Regions from separate parts of the Homo sapiens genome. Here all the other regions are linked to region 2. Evidence: fine-mapped expression QTL. A gene starts in region 2. Each other region holds a variant in brackets. All regions are shown on one strand. Distances are from middle to middle.

What was found. PIP is the estimated chance that this variant, and not a neighbour inherited with it, causes the effect. A credible set is the group of variants that fine-mapping cannot tell apart.
Region 1: its variant is the best candidate, but not a certain one, in a credible set for the expression of SMARCD3 in whole blood (TOPMed, PIP 0.60).
Region 3: its variant is the best candidate, but not a certain one, in a credible set for the expression of SMARCD3 in whole blood (TOPMed, PIP 0.52).
Region 4: its variant is the best candidate, but not a certain one, in a credible set for the expression of SMARCD3 in gastroesophageal junction (GTEx, PIP 0.79).

What each region holds. Positions count from the first base shown.
Region 1 is chr7:151,306,590-151,314,440 of GRCh38, forward strand. No RefSeq gene overlaps it. Among named protein-coding and RNA genes, the nearest start is that of NUB1, 31 kb to the right of the region's middle. The variant A/C (reference allele first, on the strand shown) is at 3,990.
Region 2 is chr7:151,244,281-151,252,131 of GRCh38, forward strand. SMARCD3 (SWI/SNF related BAF chromatin remodeling complex subunit D3) reads right to left here and starts at 4,414. Exons shown (of 13, transcript NM_001003801.2): 1 at 4,205-4,414; 2 at 1,180-1,391. The coding sequence starts at 4,282. RefSeq lists enhancers at 358-932, 933-1,506, 1,507-2,081, 2,082-2,655 and silencers at 1,169-1,468, 1,489-1,568, 2,643-2,937, 4,985-5,074.
Region 3 is chr7:151,286,729-151,294,579 of GRCh38, forward strand. No RefSeq gene overlaps it. Among named protein-coding and RNA genes, the nearest start is that of SMARCD3, 42 kb to the left of the region's middle. The variant C/T (reference allele first, on the strand shown) is at 3,929.
Region 4 is chr7:151,266,533-151,274,383 of GRCh38, forward strand. It overlaps a transcript of SMARCD3 not described here. Among named protein-coding and RNA genes, the nearest start is that of SMARCD3, 22 kb to the left of the region's middle. The variant A/G (reference allele first, on the strand shown) is at 3,855.

The DNA of each region.
Region 1 (7,851 bases), 62 kb after region 2:
ATCCCGACACTTGAGGAGGTCAAGGCAGGCGGATCCCTTGAGCCCAGGAGTTCGAGACAAGCCTGGGCATCATGGTGAAATCTTGTCTCTACAAAAAAAAAAAAAAAATTAGTGTGCATCTGCCATTCCAGCTACTCGGGAGGCTGAGGTGGGAAGATCACTTGAGCCCGGGAGGTGGAGGTTGCAGTGAGCTGAGATCACACCACTGCACTACAGCAGCCCGGGTGATAGAACAAGACCCTGCCAAAAAAATATAAAAAATGTATCCAGGAAGGCTTCATGGAGATGAAACTTCATCTGGTTTGTAAAAGATGGACAGACAGCAGGGCTGGAATCTCTCAGGGGCAGGAAACACTGAGCTTGTAATGACCCCCGAGGTGTGTGGGTGACTGTGCCCTGGGTCAGGTGATGGGGCTGGCCCAATACTCAAGATAAGGGCTGACGTACAGAAGGTATCCCTATTGTGAAGGCTGGTTGAGCCACCCTCTGCTCCTAATCTGAGACATCCCATGGAGAAAACAATGGCCTCACTGTATTCACCTAAGCCCAATCACAGCCAAGAGGCTTGAGCAGCTGAGGCCCACCAGGTAAAGATCGAAAGACCAATAAGCAGGTAAAGGTAGGGACACATCCTGCTTCCTCCAGGGAACTGAAGGGTGGAGGGTCCTGCTGTATAGGTCCCCTTGTGGGGATTCACCAAGCCCTCCCTGTGTTCCCCATAGAGTCGGAATCATGGCACCAGAAGGGACCTTAGAGCCACCCAACTTCTGAGCAAAGGCCAGAGGGAGGTGGGATTGGCCCAAGGTCCCGCTGCTCATTGGTGACAGGGCTGGGTTTAGAACCCATGTTTCTAGACCCTCACTCCCTTTGTCCTCATGGGGAGGGGCAGCCTTTCAGGAATAAACACTCAAAGACATTCATCTGCAGGTCATCTGCACTCAGCTCGGGGGCATCGCAGGGCGTCCGGTTGTGGGAAAGGGGACAGTGGGCCAGAGGGGAGGGGTTGCCATTTGCAGTTTGACTCAGGATCTGCATTTTGAGCTCCTGTTGAAGATGGAATTGCTCAGGGTCATTACGCATGCTCTCCAAATGTTCACATCTCCCTGTTCTGTATTTTCTGGGTCAGGGTCCTCAGGACTGTCCCCTGCCTGAGGGCCCTGAGCAGCCCTGGGGGCAGACGCCTCCCAGAGAGACACAGAGCCAGGTTCTGTTCAGAAACGCCTTGGGCTTCCAGTTTTGCATAAAGTTTGCTGGTAAGTGAGGCTGGCAGCACTTCTGAGGCTGGAGTCAGCTCCGTGGAGGCAGGGCCCTCATCTTATTCATCCCACCTCCCCTCAGAGGCTGGCACAGTGCTTAATACACAGAATGGGCCAAATACCCTTGTGGAGAGTAGCCGGCTCTTATGGGTTAAGTTGTGTCCCCCAAAAGATGCCAAAGTCTTAACCCCCCATATCTGTGAGTGTGACCTTATTTGGAAACAGGATCTGTGTAGATGATTAAGATAAGTTGTGCTAATCCAATATGGCTGTGCCCTTTTAAAGAAGGGAAATTTGGACACAGAGACAGACAGGCACACAGGGAGAACGCCATGCCATGTGCAGATTGAGTGAGTGAAGCCTCTGGAAGCTGGGAGGGAGGCCTGGGACCGAGCCTTCCCTAGTGCCCTCAGAGGGGGACTAGCCCTGCCGACACTATGGTCTCCAACTTCTGGCCTCCAGAACCAGGAGACCATACATCTCTTTTGTTCAAGCCAGTAGGAAGCCCCAGGAAACCAATGTATGGCCCAAAACACTGCCTGGTTTCCGCCTCCTGCTTGCCAGGCTGGTCTGTCTGTCTCCCGGCCTGCTGTGGATGTTTGCAGCCCAGCTGCCAGGGAGCAACATCAGTGAGACTGGGGTCATGGGTCCTGTGCCCCATGGACTGCATGTGGGACCCAAGCACTCAGCAGCCTCCCCAACCCATGTGCCTCAGCAAGGGGAACAGCTGGTGGAAGAGAGCGCCCTGGCCAGGGTCGCGGAGGACTGGGCCTCTATCTAGTTCCATTATGAGGCAGGGGTCCCTCCATCCTGCTTTGGCTCTGTGACCCAGTCTCTGACCACTTTCTTATTTAAGGAAAGACAAATAATTCTTGTGCTCCACAAGTCCTTGCCAATTTAATGTCATTTTCATTTGCAGCCTTTTAGGCTATTTAATTTGTAAATTTCCCTCAATAATTCCAGCAACATTATTTTCAGAGCCCTGATTGCAGCATTTACATTTTTTAGTATTCCATGAACCGCACTCTGAGATGTGTGGCTGCAGCCATCATCAGGGTACAGCCAGAAAGCACCCCAAGGGTGGGCGCCCTCCCATCCTGCCTGCAGGCGGTGGCTTGCTGGCATCTGTGGGAACTGCCCGTGTCCATGTGCTGAGAGGAATGACCTGCAGGAATGGGTCCCTCTGCACCCGCTTCCAGGACTGCCCGCCAGCGTGCAATTCCCCATCTGCTGCTAAGACCTTCCTGGATCAATATCCCTCATCTGGGTCATCCAGGGAAGCTTTTGCACGTGGTTTCACACTTCTCAATTCCAAGCCCTGAGGGGCTGGTTATTCTCCTTTCTCCCCACCCCACCCTACCCCAGGTTCATTCCCAGCGCTCTGGTCTGCTCTGTGTCTCAGGGCTGGCCCAGCGGGTGCTCAGGGTGAAAGGAGAGGGGCCGTGTCTCCGAAGCTCCCTCCCACCTCCTTGCCAATCGTGGGCAGCAGCCACGTTCCTCAGGCCACTGTCCCTGTTTTGTGATCTAGCCTCAGCAGCCACCTCCTTTATTGTTCGAGGGGGCTGGAACTGGCCCTGCAGCAGCCTCTGGAAACCTCAAAGCTACATCATAACCAAGCAAGTCTGTGGAGTCCCCACCTCCTTTGGCCACTAGCATCTGGCCTGTGGTCTGGGAGGGTGCAACTCACAGATGGAGCTTTGACATGTGTGGGTCCTGCCACAGCCAGGGAGGCTAAAAGAGTGAGTGTCTGGCATTTCCTGCTTGTACAGTGGGAGGTGATTTATGCCTGGTAAGAGGGTTTCCCTAGATCCATGAAGACTGAAGATATGTGATGATAGATGAAGAACTTCCGGTGTTGGAAGCCTTAGTGAGTGCCAAGGAAGTTCCGTGTAGCCCAGAAAAACTGAAAAACCATCATAAGTTCTGACTTGTCTGTAGCAGACCGTGTTGGAAGTGCCAACTGCATATCCCTTCAGCAGAGTAGACAGGGCACATCTTTTCTTTTTTTATTATTTTGAGGCAGGGTCTCACTCTGTCACCCAGGCTGGAGTGCAGTGGCATGATCATATCTCACTGCAACCTCGACTTCCCGGACTCAAGTGATCCTCCCACCTCAGCCTCCCTAGTAGCTGGGACTACAGGCATGCACCACCATGTCTGGCTAATTTAATTTATTTATTTATTTATTTATTTATTTATTTATTTATTTATTTATTTTGTAGAGACAGAGTCTCACTATATTGCCCAGGCTTCTTTTTTGATGGGAATGGTATATTTGATAAAACTTGAATACCACCTTTTAGCTACAATGTTAAAAAATTGTTTTGCAACATTGTAATAAAACCAGTGAGAAACTGTAGACTCTAGATTTGGTTGTACAAGATACCTTCTTTTGTCATCAATTTGAAATTAATGAAATCTGGAACAAAAGTAATAAAGATGACAGATAAAATTGATAGAGGTTATTTGGACATTGAGAAGCAAATTGTAACAAAACCCTTTCCAATCACATAAAAAGCAGCAATTGATTCAGGAGAAATGATACATTTTGAATAGAAACAATGAATAAGCTTTTGGGTTCTTTGATAAACCAATGAGTGAATCCTAAGAACATACAGGAAAAGGATGGAACTTCTTTACAATTTGACATGAAATGCTGACATTGAGGCAACAGTGTTTGTAGAGCACCATGTCACAGAGGACACCCTGCCATGCATTCAAAGGGTTTTTAAG[A/C]GTAGCCACTAAGCACAAAACCCATGAAATGCCCTGGAATCTTAAAACTCATATATGAAACTTGACAGGTATTTTCCCAGATTTGAAAATAATATTTCAGATATACAATCATTATGACCAACAGAGGGCAGTAAAGCTGTACTAGCCAGGTTCCAATCAGGAGACAGAAACCACACGATAATTTGTACAAGGAATGTTTCCCATAGATAATTAACTTTAGGCCAGGCACAGTGGCTCACGCTTGTAATCCCAGCACTCCACCCAGCCGAGCCTGGTGGATCACTTGAGGTCAGGAGTTCGAGACCAGCCTGGCTAACCCATCTCTACTAAAAATACAAAAAGTAGCCAGGCATGGTGGTGCATGCCTGTAGTCCCAGCTACCTGGGAGGCTGGGACATGGTAATCGCTTGAACCCGGGAGGCGGAGGTTGCAGTGAGCCGAGATCGTGCCACTGCATTTCAGCCTGGGCAACAGAATGAAATTCAGTCAAAAAAAAAAAAAAAGAAAAAAGAAAAAAGAATTGACTTTAACAGGGGATTGGAGTAATAAGGCCTGGCTAGAAAGAAGTTAAGAGAACTCTTGAAAAATGCAGGAATGGCAGATAGAGGCACAACCATCACTCTTAGGGCTGAGATAAAGCACCCCAGAAGAAGGTCCCTGCCACGGCTGAGATCCAGACCTGATGGGAGAGATCGTGGCAGAGAAGTCACTGAGGTGCCAGGTTGGCAGAAGCAGCTGGAAATCTGCTCTCTGGGGTATCAGAGGAATCACCCACAGTGACACGTCATGTCTCAGAACAGTCTGCAAAGCCACAGGAGAAAATGCAGGGGGAAGCAATTCCCAGGACAGTGCCCTAGTGGCCACAAACTCCTGCAAAGCTGCCCAGGGGGCTTCCAGAGAAAGCTACTGGTGCCTGGGAATTGGAGTTGGTGCTGCAGAAGCCACACATGCTGCTGGAGCTGCCAGACACTGCAGAAGCCGGGTGCCTTGCAGGAGCAGGTGTAGAGAAACCTCATGGGCAGCAGGAGCCTCCCAAGAGGAGTGCACCAGACAGTGAAGAGAAACCCCTTTCTCCTCCCGTGTCTCTTCAGCGCCCTCTACTGACAAAGCTTGACATGCAGCTGCAGGCAAAGGGCAACTAATTACAAGGCTCAGCTCAATTCTAGGAGGTCAGGCAATGAGGGACGTATTAGGAGCTGAGATACAATAAGTTGACAACTGGCACAGAAGCTAAAAGAAACTTTTCTAAATTAATAAATCGCTAAATTTTAACCCACCATGCTAGAGCAAAGATCGTCTTTCTAATTTCTCTGATAAGATTGTTGTCATTTAAAGAGTCAATTAAAGAGCCTATAGCCAAAAAATGAAAAAAAATTATAGATATGTGTCAGACAGTTAATTAATAAAAATATTTTATTTTTCTGGATTTTGTAATGTTTGTGGTATTTTTTACTTTTTAAAATTTATAACTTTTTTCTCATTCTTAGTAATATTTATTTTCATTCCTAATATTGTATTTGTGGCCCAGTCTTGGCTCACTGCAACCTCCGCTTCCTGGGTTCAAGTGATTCTCCTGCCTCGGCCTCCCAAAGTGCTGGGATTACAGGTGTGAGCCACTGCACCCGGCCAGTATTGTGTATTTAAACATAATGAAACATGGAAAAGGTACAGTAAATGTACGGTATAATCGTATGGGTCCCATCATCTTATGGGACCACCGTCATGTATGCCGTCTGTCATTGGCCAGTATCATTATGCAGCACATGACTGTGTATTTGGGAGTGGAATATGCCAGCATTCCATTTAGGGGGGTTCAAGACGTTCGTTGTGGCATGACTTGGAGGGCATCTCCTGCTTCCTCTATTAGATGATAACCTCCTTGAAGGGCAGAGCTAGAATTAACGCTGGGGCGGGGGGGCTCAGAGGCATCATCTAGTCCAATCCCCTTGTGTAGGTGGGGAAACTGAGGCCCATAGCGAGGCAGACCCCTGAGACCCTGAGAGGCAAGACCATGTTGGTGTCACGTTAGAGTCCAGGGCTCTTTCTAGTCTTCCACAGGGTGTGTGTGAGTGTGAGAGTGTGAGTGAGTGTGTCAGTGTGTGGGGGCTATGTGTGTTTGTGAGTGTCTGACTGTTGGGGAGTGGTGTGTGAGTGCATGTGTGAGTATGGGTGTGTGTGGATATGAGTGTGTGAATGTGTGTGAGAGTTTGTGAATGTGTGTGGGTGAGTGTGTCTCTGTGTGTATGAATGTGTGGGGGTGGTGTGTGTGTGCGAGTGTGAGGAGTGATGTGAGTGCGTGTGTATATATGTGTGAATGTGTGTGTTTGTGTGAGTGTGGATGTGTGTGGGGTGTGAGTGTGAGGGAGTGGTGTGTGTGCGTGTGTGTGAATGTGTGAGTGTGGATGTCTGGGGGTGTGTGTGAGAGTGTGAGGGAGTGGAGTGTCAGTGCATGTGTGTGGGTGTGTGAATGTATGAGTGTGTGAAGGTGTGTGTGGCTGTGAGTGTGGGGGAGTAGTGTGACTGCATGTATATGGGTGTGTGGGTGTGTATAAATGAACGTATTTGTGAGTGTGGGTGTGGATATGTGTGAGTGTGGGTTGTGGGGATGTGTGTGTGTGAGTGTAGAGGAGTGTGGAGTGGTATGTCAGTGCATGTATGTGGGTGTATATGAGTGTGTGAAGGTATGTGTTACTGAGTTTGTGTGTGAGTGGGTGGGAGAGGTGTGAGTGAATGTGTATGGGTGTGTGTGGGTGTGTATGAGTGAATGCGTGTGTGTGAGGGTGGGTGTGAGTGATGTAGGGGAAGTGGTGTGTGAGCACGTGTATGGGTATGTGTGGGTGTGTATGAGTGAATGTGTATTTGTGAGTGTGTGTGGTGTAGGAGTGGTGTTTGAGTGCATGTGTATGGGTGTGTGTGGTTGTGTATGAGCATGTGTGAGTTCGTGTGTGTGGGAGTGAGTTTGGGATGTGTGGGGAGGGTGTGAGAGTGTGAGTGTGGGGGAGTTGTGTGGGGGAGTAGTGTGTGTGCATGTGTATGGGTGTTTGGTGGGTGTGTATGAGTGAGTGTATTTATGTGTGTGATGTGGGGGAGTGGTGTGTGAGTGCATGTGTATGGGTGTGTGGTTGTGTATGAGTGTGTGTGAGTTCGTGTGTGTGTGGGGTGTGTGTGTGAGAGTGTGTGTGAGTGTGGGGGAGTGGTGTATGTGTATGTGTATGGGTGTTTGGTGTGTGTGAGTGAATGTGTATTTGTGAGTGTGTGTGTGGTGTAGGGGGAGTAGTGTATGACTGCATGTGTATGAGTGTGTTTGGTTGTGTATGAGTTCATGTGCGTGAGTGTGGGTGTGTGCGTGACTGTGGGTATGAGTGTGTGTGTTTGTAAGTGTGAGTGTGGGTGTGAGATGGAAAGGGGGGCAGGGGTGGAGAGAGATGAGGCAGCCTGAGCCCCGGGACGCTCCCCACCCGTTGACCCAGGAGGCTGAGTCAGGCGCCAGTCCCCACTGCCCCGGCCGCCTCCCAGTTCTTGGCACAGGAAAGCTTGTGCTGGGAGCAGAGCCACAGAGGCTGTTCTTAGAAAATGGCATTGGTTGGGGACATGTAACCAAAGGCTGGAGAACTCGCTCCTTTTCAGCAGTTAGGAGAGGGGCTCTCAGATACTCTAACCCCAGCGCATCTTACCAAGGTCCTGACGGTCTCAGCAGCAGGCTGGGCCAGGGTCCCGACGAAAGCCTTAAAATAATTCATGGGTCAAAAGCATGAACTGAAAAAATGTTAATATTCTTCGTAGTCCGTTAAATTGTACCAGTTTATATCCTCACCAGCAAGGTATGAAGACATGTATTTCCCGGTTCCTCCACCCATGGCAG
Region 2 (7,851 bases):
AGGGACATGCTGCAGCCATAGGCGCCCAGAATGTGCATGGGTGTGACTTCAGGCTGAGGCCAAATTGACTAGGCCCGGGGTAGTAGCAGCTGGATGTGGGCTCTTTCTGACCCACTAGCTGCTTCTAACTAACCCAAAAACCCCCAGAAAAACCTTGGCGGGTCAAGAGATGAAAACGCAGCCCAGAGAATAGCTCCATACTGCCCCCGTGTGGTGTTCTCAAGCACTGCCCCCTCCCTATGCAGAAATCTAAGGCTAACAAGCGGATTTCATTAAAGGTCTGGTTTGTTTTAAACAGATTATCTATGTGTAACTCTCCATTTATACAAGATAAATCAGGGAATTACCATTTGCTGTACAAAATGACGATGCACTTTACTAAAGAATTCATCATGGGATTCCTATAAGTGGTGATTTTTTCCCCGATGTGTAAAAAATAATAATGAGGTAAAATTGATATTACACCTTTTATAGAAACCCATCTGTTGTGCAAAAAAAGCATGTGTATTTGGCTAAATACTGAAACCCGGAGGGGCACTGCTGTTGCCAGGAGCCAGCAGGGGCTTTGAGGGTGCCACCAGCTGCTGGAGGAAAGCAAGGAAATGGGCTGGCCCTGGTGGCTTGAGAGCAGACCTGGGCCAGAGTGCCTAAGAATTAAGAGCAGGACTGGGTAGAGACCACCTACCCACAGGGCAAATCCCCAAGCTCCACCCCCATGGTCAGAGAGTCCCATTGAGAAAATCTGGAGTGGCTTTGAAACAGCCCGGGGGCCGGCAGGAAGGCTCAGCGGAGAACCACACTTTGGGGAACACAGTCCTACACCTCTGCCCTCAGTCCCACTGGAAGCCCCGCCCCCACCCCAAAGACTGAAGCATCACCCAGAACCTGATGGGTGGAGAGAAGGACTGAGCAGGTGACAAGGAGAAGGGTGAGGGGAGCGTGCAGGGAAGCGGTACCGGCTGCCGACGCCGCAGCCTGTCTCTACCGTGGGCACACAAAAGAATCAGGCCGGTGCCCCCTAAGCCTACCTCCCCAGAGGGCATTCGACCCGGGAAGCCTCGCTCCCTGCTAATCATTCTTCCTCGCCCCTTCCAATCCCCGCTACTCGCTTACCTGGTCCCTGCGGGTCCCCCAGGGCCCGCCCCTGCACGCCCCCTCCTCGCCGGGCCTCCCACTCACCTGCGGCTCCGCGCGGGGGCGGTGGGCACCGGCTGGCCCTGGCTCTGTGCCTGGCTCTGCCCGGGCGGGGGCGCTGCTCGCTTGCGGGCGGGCTCCATGCCCGCGGGGGCCAGGCCGGGTCGCACGGCGGGGCTGCCCATGTACGGGGAGCCCGGGGGGCCCATGGGCGCCCCCTGGTGGGGCATCCGGGCTCCAGACGGCATCCCGGGGCGCTGGGGGTGGGCGGGGGTGAAGCAGAAACGGGCGCCCGTGGGTCAGACCAGGGCCCCCCGCTCCAGGCGCGGTGAGCCGGCGTCTCCCCTCCCCCACCAGACCCTCGGCTGGTGACCCTGAGCGTTGAGCGATGGGTGGGAGCGATGGGTAGGAGGGGCAGGGGCGCCGGAATCTGCGCGGCTCTGGCGGAGGGGCTTGGCGTCTGGCTGCAGGAAGCTAACTGAAGCCAGGCACCGCACAGGGCATTGCGAGCCTCGGGGCTGCGGAAGGTACCGCAAAAATGAATATTAATGGCGCCTTTCAACCTTTCAAAGATGTTCACATCCACATGCTCCTCTGCAAGACAGCCTGAGCAGGTCCTTTCATCCCCACTTGACGGATGGGGCCACTGTGGCTCAAGGAGAAAAATGACCTCGCCAAGGTCACACAGCTCATCCTGGCCCAGGCAGCCCCTGAAGGGCTGCCTCCTGGGGGCCCAGGGCTTTGCTCTCTGCGGCTTGGTTGAGGTCCGGTACCCGGCTCCCTGCTCCGACTTCTGCTCCTCCTCCTGCTCCTCCTTCTCAGGCTCCACTTCTTGGGCGGTTCTGCCTGGTACTCACTAGCTCATCTCAGCCACTCTGCTCCCTGTGTCCCTGCTTTTGACCCTTGGGTCCCAAACCCCACTCCCCTCGGCTGACTCCAAGTCCCCACATCCAGGGTCTTCGCTGACCAAGCTGCCCCCATAATTTGCTCCCAGGGTGAGGGCTGGAGGCAGGGCAGGCAAGGGCAGCCTGCTGGGGCGCCCCAGACACAGCCAGGATTCTCTGATTGGGAGGAGGGGAACTGCGTTAGAGGTGGGCTGCCCAGGGGGGCCTGGGGTGGGTCAGGGCAGTGACACTTGCACTCACATTTCCCTTCCTGTCTGCCCAGGTCAGCAGCCACCTCCTCCTCTTCCCATCCCCACCCCAGTGAGGTCAGCAGTCAGGGTTCATGGGGGCTGTGGAGACTGAGAGGAGGCGGCTCCTCCTCCCTTGCCACTACCCCTGGGTGGTCAGATGGGGTGTAAATGAGATGCAAATGCATCGAGCGAAGTGTTCCAAACCCCACTTGTCCAGACTCCAGAAGGGAGATGGGGAGGGCCAGAGAGAGTTTCAGGGGCTGTGAAACAGAAAGAGCGGGGTGGGATGGGGACTGGGACCACGAAAGCAGGAAGAAGATCAGAGGGCAGGGGATGCAGACCCTGGCACTGTTAACATGGACACACCACCCACCTCACCCCCAGGCATGAGGAGGGGCCCCCTTGGGCTTGCTGTTTTCCTTCCAACTGCTACCTCTCCCTCCTGGTCCTCCAGGCTCTGTGTCTAACCCTAATGTCCTCCCACCCTCGGTCAGCAGCTGTCTCTGCCTATCTCTCCTGCAGTGAAACCTGCCTGTCCATGTGTCTGCTTCCCTCACCCCACCTGACCCTGTCACTCAGGCCTCCAGGGTAGCAGCCCAGAATGGAGCCCAGGCCTGGCCACCAGCTAGGTGGGGCACTGGGGCTCACAGCCACTCAAGAACTGAAGCTGTAAGTTGACCAGATTAAAAAAACAGTCCACGTGTACAGCCTCTCCCCACTAGATGGGCCTTTTTAAAGGGGCTCCCACCAGCAGCCAGGTTAGGACTGGTAACTCAGCTAGCTGACATGGACACCTTGGGAAGTTACCCCCAGGGGTCCCTGGGGCTGGAGGACAGGCCACTCCAGGGAGTCCCCCTCTTCCTGTCAGCTGCTCTCCCCAGTTATCAAGGCCAGGGATACTGGCCCATCTGCTGAAGAGGCCCTGAGAGGGAGGCTTTCAGAGCCCCCAGAGAGCTGTGCCCGCCACCAGCCCCATCCCCATGAAAGGCCAAAATCCTAGGGACTCTGGCCTTACTGAGAGGGTGTCTTCCTTGGGGTCACAACCAAATTTGGCCATAGTAAACCCGACAGCTTCCTCTACACAGGGCCTCCACTCCCTCACCCATCCCAAGAGTCGCAGCCCCTGCTTCTCCCATTCCCCACCCCTCCATACCCCTCCCAGCCGGGCCCTACTGACTCAGCTCCAGCCTCCCGGGCTCCCACGTGCCTTCACAGCCTGCCTGTGGCAGGACAGTGCTCCCCTGTCCCTTCGGTCTCTAGGCCTCATGTCCCCAACTCCAGCCCCTTCCTTCACATGTTCGAGGAGTTAAGGACATCAGCTTCTGGTGGCTGAGTCCGCCAAGGAGACCCTCAGAGCCCCTAACTTGGGCTAAGTCCCTAGAGCGGTCCTCTCCCCCACCCTAAGGCAGAAGCTCCAGAGCCCTCCCGCTGGGATGCAGAGGTGGCTCAGCCTGCGAGCTTCCCGCTACAGTGCCTCCAGGGTCACCTGCTCCTTGCTCCGGAGACACAAGCAGTGACACTGTCCCAACGGATGAACAGACAGCCCAGCCCAGCCTCTGCCATGTCCCCATCCCCCACCCCCACCCCCAGGGCAGGGGCAACACCTGGGCCCACAAGGAAAAGAACGAAAGTCAACCTGTCGGCTACAGCGAGGACCCCCTACTTGGGGGGTAGAGTCCCCAAGTCCCACCCCCGCCCCTGACAAGAGCCATGCAAACGCCTCCCTTCCCCGCCTCGCGTCAGACCCGGCCGGCCGCCTGGCGACGTGTTCGGGTGCCAGGGCGCCAGCACAGTCCCGCGGCCGGGCCGTGGGCCATGACGCCCCCCACTAGAGGGGTGGGAGAGCGGGAGCGCCCTCCCGGCCCCTCCCGATCAGCCCTCCATTCAGCCCGAGCCAGCTCGCTTGCCCTCCCCCGCTAACTTTCCCCCACTCACCACCCCATGGACCAGAAACTCAAAAAGTTTGCTTTTCGTGGCTTTGCGCGCCCCTCCGGCAACTTCGTCCGCGGCCATCGGGGTGGGCTCAGCGGCTCCTCTCACTCTCTCTCTCTCTTCCTCTTTCTTTCCCTTTTCTGCCTTTTTTTTTCCTCCAACTCTCCCCTCTGAGTCCTGCTGGGCTCTCTCACACTTCTACTCGAGCGGAGTGGGGAGGGGGCCCCTTCAGGGCTGCCCTGACGGCCCACGGCCCACGCCGCCGCCGCCCGCCCGCCGCCGCCGCCGCCGCCGCGGCTGCCGCATTCCTGCACTGATAAGACAGAAATAGTCCGGCGGCCCGGGGTCTGCCTGTTGACTCGGCGGGGACGGGGCCGCCTGCCTTTCCAAGCCCGCTGTCCAAACAGCGCAGATAAGCGGCGAGGCGCGCCGACCAGCCCGGCCGCGGGCGCTGGGCAGCAGTGCTGCAGCCCGAAGCCGCCGAGGCCCGCGGGAGGCGGCGCGGGGAGGGGACGCCAGGGGAGGCGGCGGGGGGTCGCCGGCCACCGGCTCTCGCCACAAATAGTTTCTCCGTCAGGGAATTCGCCGGCCGCGCCAGGCAGGGAACAGTCAGTTCCAACTTTTCCCCCAGCGGCTCCTGCTGCATTTCTGAGGCCCTTTCCCCAGAGACCTGGCAGGCCGAGCAGGGAAACATTCGCTGGCAGGAACCGGGGGAGCCCGGCCCGCGAGGCCTCGCGCCTGCCCGGGGCCGGCGGCGGTGGGTGTGCCCGGGCGGCGGCGTGGCCCTGCGTCCACTGCTGTGTGTGCCCTTGTCTCACACGCCGTGTGTGTCCGCGCCCTTTTGTGGCGTGGCAGCTTATGTGCGTGCAGACAGACGCCCTGTATGTGTGCCTCCCTCCACGACAGCCTCCGTGCGCGCGCGCCTGCGTGTGTGGCAGGACATGGCCTGTGCCTTTCAGCTCTGTGAGAGGCTATTTCTGGGTATGTGAGTCTTTGTTTGCCGCTCTGTGAGAAAGTGAGGGCAATAGGGGAAGTATTTCAGAAAGAGGGACAGGGATTGTGCTCATGAGAACAGGAAGAGAATGAATGTGGGGAATGGCGCAGCGCCAGGGGGGTGCTCGGGTGGGTGCGTGGAGAGAACGAGGCAAGCTGGGCTTGGTTTCCTTGGGGTGGGGGTGGAGTGGGGTTAGGGGACCCAGAGGAGTTGGGGCAGCTGGGCTGGGTATAGTGGGTATATTGGGCCGGCCTCAAGACCCCAAAGAGAGGGGTCTTGAGGCTGGGGTGTGGCGTGGGGTGGCAAGGGAGCCCCAGAAGGGGCGTGTGGAAGGAGTTGGCAGTCCCTGGAGTGGAGGAGGGACCGGAAGGAGGAGGGGCAAATCCTGACATACCCAGGCAGGGAGTCCTGGGCCTACCCAGGTCCCCAAAGGCCACGCCCCTTTTTTCTCCTTCTTGGGGAGGAGCCGTGGGCTTTGGAACAAGGCCCTTGGGTCAAGTTTGGGGGTCTGCTGGGGCCTCACTGTGAGAATCCAGGTGAGGGCAGGACCATAGCCTAGTGCCTAGGGGAGTTTGTTGAAACACTTACTTGAAGTTGGGCCCTGAAGACTGAAGGGTACTGACCCTAAACCCTTCAGAATGCCTTTGCCCAGGGGGTCCTTTCTGCCTGCAGCCTGATTTCTGCTGGCCCTGGTTGTGCTCTTGGCTGTCACTGTTCATTTAGGTGCCCACTGTCAATCTGAAATGTCAGGGAGGACATCTGGTCCAGGTTGCTCCTCCACCACCCCTAGCTTGAAAGGGGACCTAGAGATCCCCTTGCTACCAAATCTCTCCCAGGGCTTTAGCCTAGACTACCCCCCACACACCCCCACACACAGAGCCTGGGCCCTGACACGGTGGGGATGGGTGGGTGGCCTGCCTCTGTCTGCCATAGGTCATGCTGCTGGGAACCTGGGGAAGTGACTTGCCCAGTCTGCCTGCTAACCTCCAGAATCCCCGCTCACTCCCATTTCTTAGCCCCTGCCCCCGATTCTTTTACCTGGAATGCCCTTTGCCTGCCCTCTGCCTTCCCTCTGCTTGTCCAAATCACACCTATTCTTTAAAGCCCAGCCCAGGCCCCACTTCCTCCAGGAAGCCTTCCTTCGTCCTACTTGTATGCAAAGATTTTTCTCTTCTCCAAATGCTCATTGCCATCTACCCAGCACCATGAATTGGCATTGGACTGGCCTGACGTGCACTGTGCTTCAAGGACATTAGCTTTGCTTTCCCAGAGAGGCTAAGGTCCCCATAAGGTCAGAGACTGATCTTTAACTCCCACTCTTCCTCCATGCCTGGGCACAGGAACTCAACAGTACCCCAGATACCTGATGCTTGCAAAGCTTAATGAGCCAATGCATGGAGCTGGTACTCTGCCATTTACCTGATGGTGTGAGTTACCATGGGCACCCCCACCCACCATGGGTGCGTCTAGCAGGGGCATGGGAAACCACAGGCCTTGGAGGTTCTGGGGGTTGGAGATAGACACCCCTAGGCTTTGTTAAAGCTCAGTGTTCTCAACTATTGGAGAGACCTTTTGGGAAAAGAAGACAGCAGAGGAGATGCTGGGCACTCCAGTTTGGGTAGCTGGGAAGTTTGAGGCAGGGCCTGGGAGATCCCGGGCTTGGTCTTGGTGGTGGAAGAGGTTGCGGGAGGTAGTTAGACGAGGGGCTATGGTGAAGCCCCTGTGGAGGAGCTGGTGAGCTTCACCCAAGTCCATACATAAGCGCTCTCCTGAGCCACCCCTCTGGGAGACATCCTTAAGTGTACACAGACAATAGATACACCTTGCACACACACCCTCCCAACACACACACAGCAGGCACACCAATACAAGCACCAAAAGGTCGAGGAAGCCACATGGCTCTGCACACACAGGCACACCTTGAGCACCTCCACATCCCGTGGTGGGCCCCATTCACAAGGCAGGCCCAGACACATTTGCGTACTGCTTTTAGGTGGGCGACAGGAGGAGCCTTCAGACCAGAAAGCTGGGGCGGCGCCAGTGTGGGGGCCCGGGCCAGGGCTCCCTCCTCACAAAGGCCAGGATCCCCAGTGGCTTAACCCCAGAAGGGCGCTCGGTGTGCCACGCCGCCGATGGCTCCTGCGGGTGGGAAGGAGGCCCGGGAAGAGCGTGGATTCCTCCCAGCGCAATAGGGCGCCCGCCGCACTTGGGGCAGGCCGTGCGCCTGTCGGGGGCGAGGGCGGCCGCCCGGCGCCCGGCGCCGCAGTCCCCCCTGCCGTCCCCCCATCGCTCCTTCCCTCGCTGAAGCACCACCAGCACCAAATGGCAAAGCGCCGCTCCCCGCGCAGGGAGAGATGCGCCGCGGCCTGCGGGACGGGCTCGGCCGCCTCGCCCCCACCGCGCCCGAGCGAGCGGGCGGCGGCCGGGGAGCTGGGGGGGCTCGGGCCGGCCCGGCCCGCGCCGCCCCTCCCTCCGCCCGCGCCGGTCCCCGGCCTGGGCATGCGCGCCGCGGCCTCCCTCCCGGTGAAGGTCAGCCCGGGGCCCAGCTGCAGGACTCCGCGGCGGCCGGGGAGGCGGCGGAGGGAGGAGGGATGCGGGGAAGAGACTTAACTCCTTCCCTGCGGGAAGATGGCCACCTAGGCCGGGCCCCAGCCGC
Region 3 (7,851 bases), 42 kb after region 2:
AGCCAATCTCAAAATGTTACATACTCAATCATTCCATTTATATAACACTCTTAAAATGGCAAAATTAGAGAGATGGAGACCGGATTAATGCTTTCCAGGAGTTAAGGAGGGGACAGGGTGTGAGGGAACTGGGTGTGGCTATGAGAGGGCAGTCTAAGGAGCTCTCTTAGACTGGAAACGTCCGGAATCTTCACTCTTGTGCCAGGCTGATAATGGCTCCCAAAAATATGTCCACATCCTAATGCCCAGAACATCTAAATGTTACTTTATCTGGAAAAAAGGTCTTTGCAGATATAATTAACTTGAGGATCTGGAGAGGAGATTATCCTGGATTATCTGGGTGGGCCCTAAATGGCATCACCAGTGTTGTTAGGGATTTCTCTCTCTCTCTCTCTCACACACACACACACACACACACACACACACACACACACACACACTCTGACCCACAGGAAAAGGTGATGGGAAGGCAGAGCACAGAAAGAAGGATTAGATCAGCTGCCAGATGCTAGAAGAGGCAAGGAACGGATTCCATTTGGAGTCTCCAGAGGAAGCACAGCCCTGCCTATACCTTGACTTTGAGCTTCTGATCTCCAGAAGTGTGAGAGCGTAGCTTTATCTTGTTTTCAGCCACCCAGTTTGTGGTGATTTGTTACAGCAGCTACAGGAAACCAACACAACTCTCCTCCTTGTGATACCGTGCTATAGTTTTGCAAGATGTCACCACTGGGGACACTGGACAAAAAATACACATCTCTGCATTATTTCTTACAAATGCATGTCAATCTATAATTATCCCCACATAAGAAGTTTAACTGAAGGATGGGAGCTGGAGGGGAACGAAGTACAACGCCCCTTGATTTTCAGGGCCTGTTAGAGGAACAGCAATGTGGCTGATGGACTGTGAGGTCGGAGAGATAATGGCCTCGATGTGTAGGGGGCAGTGAAGAGGATGGGTTGTACAGGCCTTTCTGTGGGTATTTAAAGACTTTGTCCCGGCCGGGTGCGGTGGCTCACGCCTCTAATCCCAGCACTTTGGGAGGCCGAGGCGGGTGGATCACAAGATCAGGAGATCGAGACCATCCTGGCTAACACGGTGAAACCCCGTCTCTACTAAATATACAAAAAATTAGCCCAGCGTGGTGGCAGGCGCCTGTAGTCCCAGCTGCTGGGGAGGCTGAGGCAGGAGAATGGCATGAACCCGGGAGGTGGAGCTTGCAGTGAGCCGAGATCGCGCCACTGCACTCCAGCCTGGGCGACAGAGCAAGACTCTATCTCAAAAAAAAAAAAAGACTTTGTCCTTCACCCTGAATCAGATGGGAAGCCACTGTAGCATTTTGAGCAAGGATAGACATGATCTGATATTCATGTAAGTGGGCCAGTCTGCTGCCATACTGAGCATAGACTGTGAGGGACACAGTCTATGGCCCTTAACTCAAGGCAGGGAGACCAGTTAGAAGGACAGTGCCATCACTCAGGTAGGAGGCAATGGCTGGTTTGAATAAGATGGACTGGATTCTGAGTATGTTTTGAATAAAAGGTTCGATTCTGAGTATATTTTCAAAGTAGAGCCAGTGGGATTTGCTCTCAGATTGCCCATGGGTATGAAAGAAAGACAGAAGGTAGGATGGCCCTAAAGATGTGGCCTGATCCCAGCTGGAAGCATGGGGCTGCTGTTACTCACATGAGGAAGGTTGGGAGGATAAGTTTGAGATGCTTATTGGACATCCAAAAGAGATGTCAAGCTGGCACTTGGATGTAGGAGGCTGGAGCTTAAGCTGGAAATACACTTTTAGGAGTCAACATTTAGCTGGTAGTTTATACCATGAGACTGGGTGAGCTCACCAAGGGAATGAACATTTAAAGAGAAGAGGCCCAAAGCCTGAGTCCTAGGGCATTCCAACACTAAGAGGTCAGATACAGGGAAAAGCCAGGAAAGGAGGCTGAGAAGGACCCACAAGAAGAATGTGGCATCTTAGAAACCAACTCTAGAGGAAGCGTTCTAGGGAGAAGAGTGATCGACCATGTCACGTGTTGCTGGTGGCCCAGTAAGTTGAAGACTGAGACTTGGCTGTTGCCTGTAGCAATGAGGAGGTCATTTGTTGACCTTGGTGAAAGTTTCGATGGGTCTGTAGGGCAAAGCCAGAAGGGGAGAAGAGGAATTATAGACAGCAACTAGAGAGAGCCCTTTAGGGCAGTTTTATTGTGAAGAGGAGTTGGAGGGAGAAATGGGGTTGCAAAGGTTTCTTTAAAGTGGGGAAATTAACAGCATGTTTGTGAGCTGATGGGAATGAGCCAGTAGAGGGAAACATTGATGATGCTGGGGGAGGGAGAAGACAACAGTTGGGGCAGTTTTCTTGAGTAAGCCTGAGACAAAGCAGGAGTCATTCATCTATAGCAGCAGTTTTCAACTTTGGATGTATGTTAGAATCACCTGGAGAAAAAAATCAAGTTGTAAAAAAAATCGCCATTAGTACACCTCAGACCCATGAAATCAGGGTCTCTGGGGATGACTTTGCAGAGAACGTGGGGAAGGAGTTTTATATGGGCACCAAACAGGCAGGTGTGAGGCATAGTTGTGGGAGCATGTGGAAGTTCTCTTCTGATGGCTATTTCCTCAGTGAAATAGGAAGCAAAATTATCAACTGAGCGTGAGGATAGGGGAGGAGATTTTGGAGGTTTGAGGAGAAGAGCAGGTGTGGAATGGTTATTTAGGTGTGGAAAGGCTGCAGTCATTGGTAATGAAGAGGTCTAGGGTAAGGCTAGGGAGATGAGATGCGAAGGGAGAATAAAGGGCAGGCTCATTGGAGGAGAGGAGGGTAGGAACTGAGAGGCTGGGGTCCTGGAAGGATCCTCTACATGGACATTCAAATTATCAGGAATTGGCCAGGTGTGGTGGCTCATGTCTGTAATCCCAGCACTTTGGGAGGCTGAGGAGGGCAGATCACTTGAGATCAGGAGTTCAAGACCAGCCTGGCTAGCATGATGAAACCCTGTCTCTACTAAAAATACAAAAATTAGCTGGGTGTGGTGGTGTGTGCCTATAATCCCAACTACTCGGGAGGCTGAGGCAGGAGAATCATTTGAACCTGGGAGGCGGAGGTTGCAGTGAGCCAGGATCATGACTCTGCACTCCAGCCTGGGCAACAGAGTGAGACTCTGTCTCAAAAATAAATAAATAAATAAATAAAATAAAATAAAAAAATAAAAAGCCAAATGATCAGGAATTAAGACGGGGGAGGTGGCAGAGAGAGAGATGTAGGAGGGTTCTGCCTGGATCTCAGTCAATGGAAGGTGGAACTGGGGGAGGGGCAGCCTCACATTTGATGCTTCAGCAAAACACAAGTATCTATAGGCCCCAGGTGTTGCGTCAGAATTCTTGTTTCTTGTATTCCATGTCTTCCTCTTTTTTAGTTTAATTCCTTATTGGGGTGATCCTCATAATTGTATTTTATTTGTTATTATTTTGCTAAGACTGGTGTGGTAGTCTCCTTACTGGTATTCCTGCCTCTAGTCTTGCTGCACTTCATGTGGCCTCTGACAAACCTCACTGCTTCTCTACATTTCCTCTAGTGTAACTTCTTGAACTACTAAATTGGCCCTGATCACTTCCTTGCTTAAAATCTTGCCGTGAGCCACCATCCCTAACAATAATCAGCTCACATTTGTCGATCCCTGGCTGTGGCTGTCACTGTGTTGAGTGCTTTATGTGTGTTCTTTACGTTGATCCTCATAGGCACTCCAAAAGGCATGTCTGATGATTGCCCTTATTCCATAGGTGATGACACTGAGGGTAAGGGAGGTTAGGTAACTTGCCCAATGCCTTGTAGCTGACGTTATCACAGCATCCAAAGCTTCTTATAATTGATCACTCTCCCTATACACTTCCTTCCTTTTTTTTCTTTCTTCTTTCTTTCTTTCTTTCTTT[C/T]CTTCTTTCTTCCTTTCTTCCTTTCTTCCTTCCTTTCTTTTTTCTTTCTTTCTTTCTTTCTTTCTTTCCTTCTTTCTTCCTTTCTTCTTTTCTTCCTTCCTTTCTTTCTTTCTTTTTTTATGGGGTCTCGCTCTGTCACCCAGGCTGGAGTGCAGTGGCGCAATCTCGGCTCACTGCAAGCTCCACCTCCCGGGTTCACGCCATTCTCCTGCCTCAGCCTCCTGAGTAGCTGGGACTACAGGTGCCCACCACCATGCCTGGCTAATTTTGTTTTTGTATTTTTAGTAGAGATGGGGTTTCACCGTGTTAGCCAGGATGGTCTGGATCTCCTGACCTCGTGATCCACCCACCTCGGCCTCCCAAAATGCTGGGGTTACAGGCGTGAGCCACCGCGCCTGCCCTGTACACTTCATTTCTTACCATTTCTTCCTACCTTGAACTTTGTGCTTTGGCAAAGCTGAATTCTTAAAGGTCCCAGGACCAGTCAGACTCCTGGTAGGAAGGATGTGGCACAGAAAGAGGGTTTAGTTAAAGAGCAGTAATGAAGGGCCCCTTAACAAGAGGTGGGCAGGGCTAAGGGAACCAACGATGATGGTAAAGCACCCAGACCCCAGCACCAAAGGGAGACCAAGGGGCAAGGAGCAGGGCTGTGCTATCAGAACCATGTTGGAGTTGAGACCATGGAAGAGGGTGTGTGTCATAGGAACTACGGGGACATGCAGCCACTGCCAAAATCAGGATAAATCCCATGACTCACCTTTCCTCCACACCTCCAGTCTTCTGCTGGGGCCTGCATTGGCAAATCCAACCAGAAGCCAGAAGATAAGAGAGCTGGGGTAATGCAGTCTGTAGAGGTCAGCTTGCTTGGGCATAAATGAAGCAGGAGAAGGATAGAGAATGGATCAGGAGGGACAAAAAGCATTTCTGTCCCTTGCTTAGAGGAATAAATCCCATGACCCCCACCCAGGGGAAACACAAAGTCCCATCAGCCACTGGATTATTGGTGATTTCAGTTCAATCATACTCCCAATAGGAGCCAAAGCAATAATGTTAGCGACCAGGGCTGCTCTTCATATAAAGTAACAGGAAAAAAAGGGAAGGGAAAAAAAAGCTCTATCTTGCTGGTCATAAGACCTAAGTTGATGTTGATCCTTTTGGCTTCCTTCCTCCACCCACTGGTGGAAGCAGCATCTCTGCTGCTCTGATTTTACCTCCTTGGTTGACCCAAATCTTCATCCCCACAAGATACAAGTTCTTAGTAGCTCTGTCTTTTTTTTTTTTATATGGAGTCTCACTCTGTCGCCTAGGCTGGAGTGCAGTGGTGCGATCTTGGCTCACTGCAAGCTCTGCCTCCTGGGTTCACGCCATTCTCCTGCCTCAGCCTCCTGAGTAGCTGGGACTACAGGCACCCACCACCACGCCTGGCTAATTTTTTGTATTTTTAGTAGAGATGGGGTTTTGCCATGTTAGCCAGGATAGTCTTGATCTCCTGATCTCGTGATCCACCTGCCTCGGCTTCCCAAAGTGCTGGGATTACAGGCGTGAGTCACCGTGCCCGGCCCTTAGCAGCCCTATCTTTATGGGGTTGCCACTGTGGCCACTGACCATCACTATTGGACAGGAACAACTATGAGTCGCCCCAGCAAGTGCTCTGGTCCAGATAGAACTCTCTTTACCCCTATTCCACAGCAGCAGCCAATTCCCCTTGGTAACTGGGTACCTGAGCAGTATGGTGACCCCCTTTGACACCTATGGATTCAGCAGCACGAGAAGCCCAACCTGGCCAGTAGGAGGCTTCAGCTTCCAATGGAGTGAAAACAAGATGTGTTCTCTCTTAAAAGTGGCTGAGGCTGGGCGCGGTGGCTCACGCCTGTAATCCCAGCACTTTGGGAGGCCGAGGTGGGCAGATTACCTGAGATCAGGAGTTCGAGATCAGCCTGGCCAACATGGTGAAACCCCGTCTCTACTAAAAATACAAAAATTAGCCGGGCATGGTGACACACACCTGTAATCCCAGCTACTCGGGAGGCTGAGGCAGGAGAATTGCTTAGGCCGGGAGATGGAGGTTGCAGTGAGCCGAGATCGTGCCACTGCACTCCAGCCTAGCCAACAGAGCGAGACTCTGTCTCAAAAAAAGAAAAAAAAAAGTGATTGAGAGAGAACACTTACCATGGCTCATGCCTGTAATCCCAGCACTTTGGAAGGCCGAGGTGGAAAAATCTCTTGGGGCCAGGAGTTGGACACCAGCCTAGGCAACAGAGTGACACTCTGTCTCTAAGAAAAATTTTTAAAAGTTAGCCAAGCCCAGTGGCACACGCCTGTAGTCCTAGCTACTCAGGAGGCTGAGGTGGGAGGATTCCTTGACCCCAGGAGTTCAAGGTTGTAGTGAGCTATGATTGCACCACCGCACCCCAGTCTGGGAGATAGAGCAAGACTTTGTCTTAAGACATGGTTAAGATGATAAATTTTATGTTATCTGTATTTTACTACAACAAAAAATTTTGAAAAAAAAGGACCCAACTCACACCCATTACATTGGTTAAAATCAAGAAGACTGACCAACCCAAGCACTGGCAGGAAGGCAGAGCAAATACTGAAAAAGGCTTGGCAGCTTCTTGACATGTCTCCCATATGACCCAGCCATTCTACTCCTAAATGATTATTTCCTGCCTTCTCCACTCTCTTCAAATCTCCAGCATCTCCCTCAGAACAAATAAATTGAGTCTCCAGGAATACTCTCTCAAAGAACAGGAACCTATGTATTCTGGCTATAGGGGAAACAGCACCATATTTTGGCCATTGGCTTAAAGTATCTACCACATCGTCTAGGGGAGCACCCCAGCCTCACAGGGTTCTGTCCTCCACTCGGTGCCATAACTGAGCCTTCAGTGGGCCATTTCCCAGATTCACCCACACAGTTGCAACTGAGCGATAGGCACAGCGTAAGACCAGTGGATTCTCTGGGCATAAACTCAGTGCCACAGGTCTTTTGTTATTATGAGTTCCTTGGTTGGAGATGATGTTGTAGGGGTTACCATGACAATAAATAGGGCATTCTGGAAATCTTCAAACAGTGGGACTGGCAGAAGCAGTGCAAGTAGGGAAAGCAAGTCTGTATCTGGAATAGGACTCCACTCTTCTTTTGTTTGTTTGTTTTAATAATAAAATTCTGTTAGTTACTCCAAAGGACTCCATCCTTAAGAGGACAAATTGATAGCCGCCTCATGAAGGAGTGATACAAAGTTAGCATCAACCTATTTCCAGGGGGCTGGCTGGTTCCTGTGGATGGTGCAATGTCAGGGATTCAATGTTGGTTATTTCTAGTATTTAGCAGTTTGGGAACTCAATGGTAATGGCATCCATATGAGCCCCAGTGGCGGGTACCTACTGAGGAAGGATTGGGTAGGGGAAAAACAAGCTGGCTGACATTCACAGGAGGAATTGATCATTTCATCAGCCTGATCATTGAAAGCCTCCTCTGCAGTGGGTGACTCTGATGGGAATGTGCATGATACATGAGTATCTTCATGTGGTGCCCATTCTGGGACCTCTGTCCACATACCTCTTTCCCAGACTTCCTGGTCACCAGTCTTCTGGCTTTGACCAAAGTTCCTGACCAGCCACACAATCTATTACCCATTACCCATTAGTCAATGTAGAGCCATACCCTAAGCCATCTTGCCTCCAAAGCAAAGCAGACAACTAGATTGGCTAAAATTTGTCTACTGGGAGGCTTTCCCTTCACTACTGTCTTCTGGGCCCATTTCTGCATGGAACTTAGTGCAGTGGTCATACACTTCCATCTGATGACCCTTCTGTAAACAATAGATTGATTTTTCTTCATCGTCTATTAAGTAGGCAGAGGGAACTCACTATGAAGCCATAGTTGTGAGTTGAGGGAGAGGTAGCAAAAAAGTAGGAGT
Region 4 (7,851 bases), 22 kb after region 2:
ATGTATTGAGAAAGGGACAGGAAGCAAGACAAGGCTCTCTCTCTCCAGACTAATGTACACCCTTTGGGGCTTCGTCTTTCTTCAATTCTTAGCAAATTTGCCCAATTATCGTAACATCCAGCCGGCAATGTGCTAGTGTGTCATGTCAGCGGCTTAACATCAGCCAATATGGGAGGTTTTTTTTGTTTGTTTGTTTTTTGAGATAGGGTCTGGCTATCGCCTAGGCTGGAGTACAGTGGTGTGATCATGGCTTATTACAGCATGGACCTCCTGGGCTCAAGCCATCTTCCTGCCTCAGCCTCCTGAGTAGCTGAGACTATAGGTGCATGCCACCATGTCTGGCTAACTGTTAAAATTTTTTGTAGAAATGGGGTGTTGCTTTGTTGCCCAGGCTGGTCTTGAACTTTTGGCGTGAAGCGAGCCTCCCGCAGTGGCCTCCCAAAGCGCTGGGATTACAGGCCCAGCCACTGCACCCAGCTGGTGGTATTTATACCACAGGAATTGGCGAACGATACAAACCGGAGTTCTGCTCCCACTCCCCGTCCTGCCAAGAGCCAGTTGTTAAACATTTACCCGCACACCACTGCATCCAGCCCACGTTTATGTATCATACCCTAAAGATATAGGGAAACACTTTGTCAAACACCTCCAAATTAACACATAGAGCTTCATGGAGCTTAGCCTACAAAACAGTTCAACATGCATTATCCAATTTGGTTCTCTCCACACTCCAGGAAACTGAAGGGATGACTATTACTGTATCCATTTTAAAGACAGGAACACAAGGCGTAGAGAGTTCTTTAAAGACTGATTCAGAGCTGGAGAGCGAGTTAATGTTGAAAGTGAGGCTCAAACTCCTGTTTTCTGATCATAAGGTCCGTGTTCTTTCTGAGTCACTATCTGACTGCTCCCCCATTCGTTATCGAATGTACTGCGAAGTCCTCAGGGGTTGGTACTCCGGGTTTAAGACACAGACAAGTTGAGAGGGATTCTACAACAGCCCCTGCCCTTCCCATTAGCAGCCATCATGAGGATTTATGAGCACTGCTTCTCAAACTGGGATTCAGATCTGTTCTAGGGGGAGGGTCCTCAAGTTTTTGAAAAGACTCTGCATTTTGTTTATAATTTCATTGTTGACAAGAAGCCAACTGAAGTGACAGCAGGCCAGGTGCAGTGGCCCAAGCCTGTAATTCCAGCACTCTGGGAAGCTGAGGTGGGCGGATTGCTTGAGCTCAAGAGTTTGAGACCAGCCTGGGCAAGATAGCAAGACTCCTCTCTACGAAAATTTAAATATATTAGCCGGGTATGGTGGTGCACACCTGTAGTTCCAGCTACTTGGGGCACTGAGGTGGGAGAACTGCCTGAGCCCAGGATGTTGAGGCTGCAGTGAGCCATGATCGCACCACTGTACTCCAGCCTAGGCGACAGAGCTGAGATCCTGTCTCATAAATAAATAAACAAATAAAGTGACAGCAATTCTTAATGCAGTGTTTCTCAAACTGGGGGCCCTGAGTTCTCAGGGAGAAATGCTGGTTTGTTTTCTGGGCTGGGGGATAGAAGGGAGGACAGGGGACAAGTGGCAGGCAAGGAAAGCTCAAGGTGAGTGTTACGAACTGGGCAGGGCAGATAGGTTTTGCTCAGCCCTCACTGTGTCCTAAACACTTTAATTAGGCACCAACCTTAAAGACTGAGAGATTTCACATCAAAGCCAGATTTCCAGAATCTCTTAAAAAATGAGAAATTTGGCAAGACCAGACCACCAGTCCATTTAGAGACAATCGGGTGGAGCTGAGGAGGGGCTGCCCCTTTTCAGAGGGGCGAGAGCCCTCCGATTTGCCACATCTCCTCCCCATTCCCTATTTTAGGGGTTACAAACTCAAATGACCCTAGGGACACAGCAGTGAAAGTCAATGAGTGGAACAGGCTGTGTGTGAGATGATAAATGGCCTTTGACCTTGAGCCTCAGTGCTGGGGGCAAAAGAGGAGGGGCTGGGTTGAGACCCTGAATAAAGGGGTGGCTGTCTTGTCTCTGTGAGGGCCCCTGAGGTTTGGGCACAGCAAATTTCTGAGGGCTAAATATGGTGGAGAGACCCCAGTTGGGACTCTTGCCCTGACCACTGGGAAAGTTCCTTCATGCCCTGTGCCTCAGTTTCCTTATCTGGAGAGGATGATGATTATAACAGCACTTACCTTATAGTGTTGTGGTTAGGATAAATTAAACCACACAAAATTCTCTCTCTTTTTTTTTTAATGTAGAGATGAGGTCTCGCTTTGTTGCCCAGGCTGGTCTTGAACTCCTGGCTTCAGGCGATCTTCCTGCCTTGGCCTCCCAAAGTGCCGAGATTACAGGCATGAACCACTGCGACTGGCCTAAAATTCTTGAAATAGTTCTCAAAGCCCACAATGATCCCTCAGTCTTTACTGGCTGCTATTACTCTGCCCCCAGTCACTTCACTCTTTCACTTCCTGCAGGTCACTGTGTTTGTGGCAGCTGTTCTTGAATCTGAGGTGGGGGCTGTGATGGCAGGTGGCAGGGGGAGACATCCCTGCCCACTGAATGGATCTAAAGTGTCTCAAAGACAGACTTTTCTTTTGAAGGAAGAGGCCTGGGTAAGATGCAAGTGAGGTGATGGTGAAGGGGGAGTTAGAAGGGAAACTGAGGCAGGAAAAGGCAAAAGCACAGTGCTGCTTCCTGCTGGGCAGAGTGGAGTGGGTGCTGTAGACCTGAAGCTGGAGCTCAGCTTCTCTTGCATCTACTTAGGCCCCCACGGGGGACACCTTCCGACCCACCAGCACCTCCTTCAAGCCTACACACCCTCGAGTCCCCTGCTGTGGATTCAGCTGCCGGCCCACCCTGAGCCATCTCCAGGGACCACAGGGCTCTCTCCTGCGCCCTGCTGGCTCACTTTTTCTTTTTTCCAATTAAAAACTTTATGAAAGGCAAAGAAGACAGGCCTTTCACACCTGCAGACTGCATCAGGCTGGATGGGAGCTGTGGGCTGGAAAGATGGGCTAAAGCTAAGATAGCTCCATGTTGGGGCTGACAGATATGGAACAGGAAGAATGGACTTCTGCGTGTCTGGGTGGTGGCCAGTGGCGTATGCGGGCAGCATGAATGGCAGGCTGGGACCTGCAACCAAGGGAGGCATCGGTGGCATTAGATGGTGCTCTGGGGTCCACAGATGACACCTGGAGCAGGGACAGCGCTCAGCATCCCATGTGAACACTTGCAGTGGCGAGGGGCGCTCGGTGAACGCAGGCATTGTGCAGAAGGTCCGCCATCACCATTGCTTCTTTATAGAAGGGCATGATGTCCCATTCTACAGATGAGACATGTCACTCAGAAAACTGAGTACCCCTTCCCCATCTGCCTGGCTGGAAAGGGAGAGCTCACCTTCTAGCACAGGCACAGGTGGCTCCAAGTGTGGGCCATGGCCTTGGGGGATCTTCAGCGCTCCCCAGGGGGCACGAAGGCTGGGAATATTTGAAAGAGCCAGAGCTGGATGTTCCGAGCGGAGACAGAGCCTGTGCGAAAGCTGCCTCCAAATGTTGAAAGGTGGTCAGATGGCTTGGAGGGAGAAAGGGGTTTCTCCCTGCAACTCCAAAAGGCAAACCCAAGGTCAGAGGGAGTGACATTCTCCCTCACCATAGGAATAACTGAAGAGGGAATGAGCATGGAGCACTCCTCCAACCACGGAGTTACAGGAGGGAGACGCGGGGCACAGGGCAGCTCAGGCGACAGCAGGACAAGGTTGGCAGGCAAGAAAGGCCCACTCTTGCATCGTGGTGGTGTAGAGAGGGTGAGGCTGACAGCACCAAGAGGGATCTGGGGCTCATTTTAGAATCAGCCGTAG[A/G]GCCACCCCCTCTCTGTCCACTGCCTCACACATTTGCTCATTCATTCAAGAAATACTTCTCTGTACTGTGTGGAACAAGACAGATGCAGCCATGCCTTTAAGGAGCCCTGCAACTCAGTATTAGCCTCTTTGGTAGGTGCTGCAAGACAGAAGAGAGTGGGTGGGCCTTCACGCCCAAGCCGGGTGGGAGAAAGCCTCCCTGGAAGAGGTGGAACTGACGTGGAGGCTTCAAGGATGAGTGCAGTTAGCCAGGTGAAGGGAGCTGGGAAGGGTGTCGGAGGTGCAGGGAACAGCATGTGTGAGGGCCCTGAGTGAGGGCACGAGAATGAAGCCACTAGGAAGTGGAAGGCGGAACAAATCAGATTTGTGTTTAGGAAGCCCATTCTCGTTACTGTGCTGGGCCGGGGTCTGATGCAGGGACAAGGCTGAGTATGCGGCACTCAGATGGGGGCAGAAGATCACAGTGTGTGGACCAGGGCAGTGACGTGGGAAATCAGAAGCAGATGGAATTGACACTTATCTAGGAAATAAAATCAAATAAAAGGATGTGGCAGTTGTTCCAATGGAGAGGTAAGAAAGGGGGTGGACTTGGTCACTTCAGGTCTGGACCTGAGCCTCAATATCACTGTTTAGCAATGTGGCCCATCCACCCCACTGCAGAGGGGCCCTACTCCCTTGTCTTCATGTGTTCACAAGGAAACATGTACTGTATTCCCAGGAGAGGAGATACTGGAATGACCCTGGCCCTCTCCCCACCCTTCCTCCCTGTGGGAGGAGGCTTTGTCTGATGAGGTGGTGAGGGCCTGCACCAGCCGCACAATCCCTTTCCCAGGCGGGTGGGGTGAAGGTGCTGAAGGCAAGGCTGCTTACCCTGTGGCCAGCATTCCTCTTCTAGACGAGTCTGTTTTAGGACACAGATCATCTCCTTCTGTTCCCATGCCCAGGTAAGCAAACCCAGGTTAGGGAGTAGGACCTGCCTTCTACACTTGGGCCTCAGGTTCAAGCCTCTCTTCAGCTTGAATTTCCTTGCACTTAAGTTAACTGATGCCTGTGCCTGTTTTTCCATGGGTTCAGGACCTGTGGGGAAAGACCAGGACTGGTCCCTCCTCATACCCAAACTCACCTGTGGGGCCTGTGTGCTTAAGGAGCTCTTTATTTCCTATAAGGATATTACCCCTACCTGGAGAATGTGACTCTGTACTTAATTTCCAATTTTAAATAAACCTTCCTGCTGCCTGATATTTATCAGAAACATTGTTGTAAATATCAATATAGAGAGTATTTCCTGGCCAGGCTCGATGGCTCATGCCTCCCAACACTTTGGGAGGCTGAAGTGGGAGGATTGCTTGAGCCCAGGAATTTGAGACCAGCCTAGGAAATATAGTGAGACCTCATCTCTACTAAAATAAAAACAAAACAAACAAAAGCTAGGGGGCATTGTGGCTTACGCTTGTAGTCCCAGTTACTCAGGAGGCTAAAGCAGGATCGCCTGAGCCCAGGAGTTGGAGGCTGCAGTGAGCCATGATCACACCACTGCACTCCAGCCTGAGCAACAGCGTGAGACTCTGTCTCTTACAAAAGAGAAAGAGGGTATTTCCTGAAGGTAGCAATGCATTCCTCTAGTTGCTCCAAATTTTAAGTTTGGGTTAAGCAATATTACCAGTAGGTTTATGGCTGGGGAGTATTGTGTTGGTCCTTGCCTTAGCCCTAGGAAGCAGTTGTGACATTGTTGAGAACATTGCATAACTTTGTCACATGGTATCCCCTTCATTTCCTCATACAGGAGAGACCTCCCAGTGGCTCGGGACCAGAAATCACGTGATTTGAGCAAGTTGTTTGATTTTTATCTCATGCACAGTGTAAATCATGTAACTGCTTGCTTCTCTGCTGGCATCGGGGTCTCTGGGCCTCGTGGTTTGCATTTGGTGCAGTAGCCACATCCTAGGCAACACCATGTTTTCTCTACTCTATCTCTGTCTCAGTTTCCTCACTATATGTATCTTTGCAAACTACCTGAAACCCTTTTCAGGATGAGGCGGAGCATAAGAACACCTCCCTGTGTCTTCCTCTCCCTCCCTTATGGCACAGTGTCCCTCACTCTAGGGCATTTTCCCAGAACGATCTTCAGTCTGGGAAAAAGGTTCACATGGGAGATGGTCCAAGTTTGTAAGTTGCAGTAGGAGGCCTGTGTGGGGCGCACGCTCATGAGGCACGTTCTCAAATCCCTGGAAGTAAGTGTAGAGTGCCAAGAATCGGTGTCACAGCTTGGAAAGTCAAGAAACCGAACGCGCTATCCCAAAATGTGGGCCTGGCTGAAGTGATCAGCCCTCCTCTACGGTCCTTTATGAGTCACCAAGGATTCCCACACCCCTCATTAGCAAGGAGCACAGGGGGACACAGCAATGGTCCCTACAAGATGTCCCTCAGCCAAGTACCCGTCAGAGGCAGGCGGTGGCCTCAGCTTGGCCCCTCTGGTACAGCAATTCCAGATGGTTAGGAGTCCAGCCACAGCTGAGGGAAGTCCACTCATCCCCGATGGGTGGCTCAGCCTCCTCCCAGTGACACCTCTAGCTCATTATCTCCACCACTTAATTTTCACTAATCATGAGCACTCACTTGCAGTCACACCGCCAGTTTTGGGGTGAGGACGGACGCCTAGGCACCAGCACCAGGGCCTGTCAGCATCCAAATGCCCAAGTGCCTGCCTGGCTGCCAAGAGCCTGCAACGCACACCGCCGATTGCATGTGAATGCAACTCCAAGATAAGATGCCAAACTTCCACCACCTTGTCACTCTTGGAGCTGGGGCTTCTGACTCATGGCCAGGGTCACTCTGGGGCCAGGTGTCACTAGGATGGACCTACTGCCCCAGGGCTCCAGCTCCAATCTTCACAGGCCTCCTCTGCCCTCCTTCCCCTGTGCCCATCCTGCAGTGACCCTTCAGGAAAGGTCTGGAACAGCCCAAGGCTCCCTCCGACTGCTGCTGGGGAGCCCCTTAGGGCCTAACGAAGGGCATGTCAAATATTAGGAGGACTCTCCACGTGGGGGACCACTTCAGGTGCACCCCTCCAGGAAGCTTAGCTGCCTCCCATCAGCCTGCCCCCCGTTCAACCTGGCCTCTAACCTCAGACACCCCAGAACTGTAGAGTGCTTGGTTTAATATACTAGTTCTCACCTTTTCTTTATGAATTTCAGCTAAAACACCAACCACCACAAACTGAGCAACCAGTCCCCAGTTCACCTCAGGTGCTGGGGAGGTGTTGGGGATAAGGGTGGGACGTTTGCTTGGAGGCCTTGACTTTCCTGCAGGTGGACTGGGGCTTCAGGTGTGGGGCTGGGCATGCCGCCACCAGGTGTGTTTCCTTGGTGATGGGTACCAGGTGACTGGTGCCTGCTGCTGCCCTGTGTGGCTTGGATCCTCTGGGCCAGGCCAGCTTCCCCAAAAGCCGGTGCCCTGCCCCATTTTGCCCTGGGCCTGCACCTCACTGGAGGAGGAGGGGCACTGGGGCAGTTTGAAGGGGAACGGGGCTGTCCCTGGCCTTCAGAGCAGCCTGGCAGGAGGATGAGTTCCTCTGCCCACTTCTGAGGAAGGAGAAGCAGAGAAAGCACTTTCATTCTGCCCACAGCCCCAGGCCTCCCCGAGCCTCAGGCTCCTCTGGGCCATTTCCAATTGCACCTTTCCAGGACTTTCCTGATGTCTCCCTCCTCAGTGCTCTGAGGCCTGTGTGGTCTGTGGCCCTTTGTGCCCAATTGTCAAGGCTGCTCTCCAAGGCCGCAGGCCCTGAGGACAGGGACTGGGCTCCACATACCTTGAGGCCCTGCCAGTACCCACCCTGTTGCCAGGTGCCTCCCACCGGTGAGGCCAGCCAGCGTGATGATGGGTGGGGCTGGGCAGGCAGAGCTCAGACCAGACTTCAGTTCCGACCCCTTACCATGCCAGCTGGGGCTCTGGGGCAGGTGGCTTTTCTGCCCAGAGCCTCAGTGTGTCCTTCTGGACA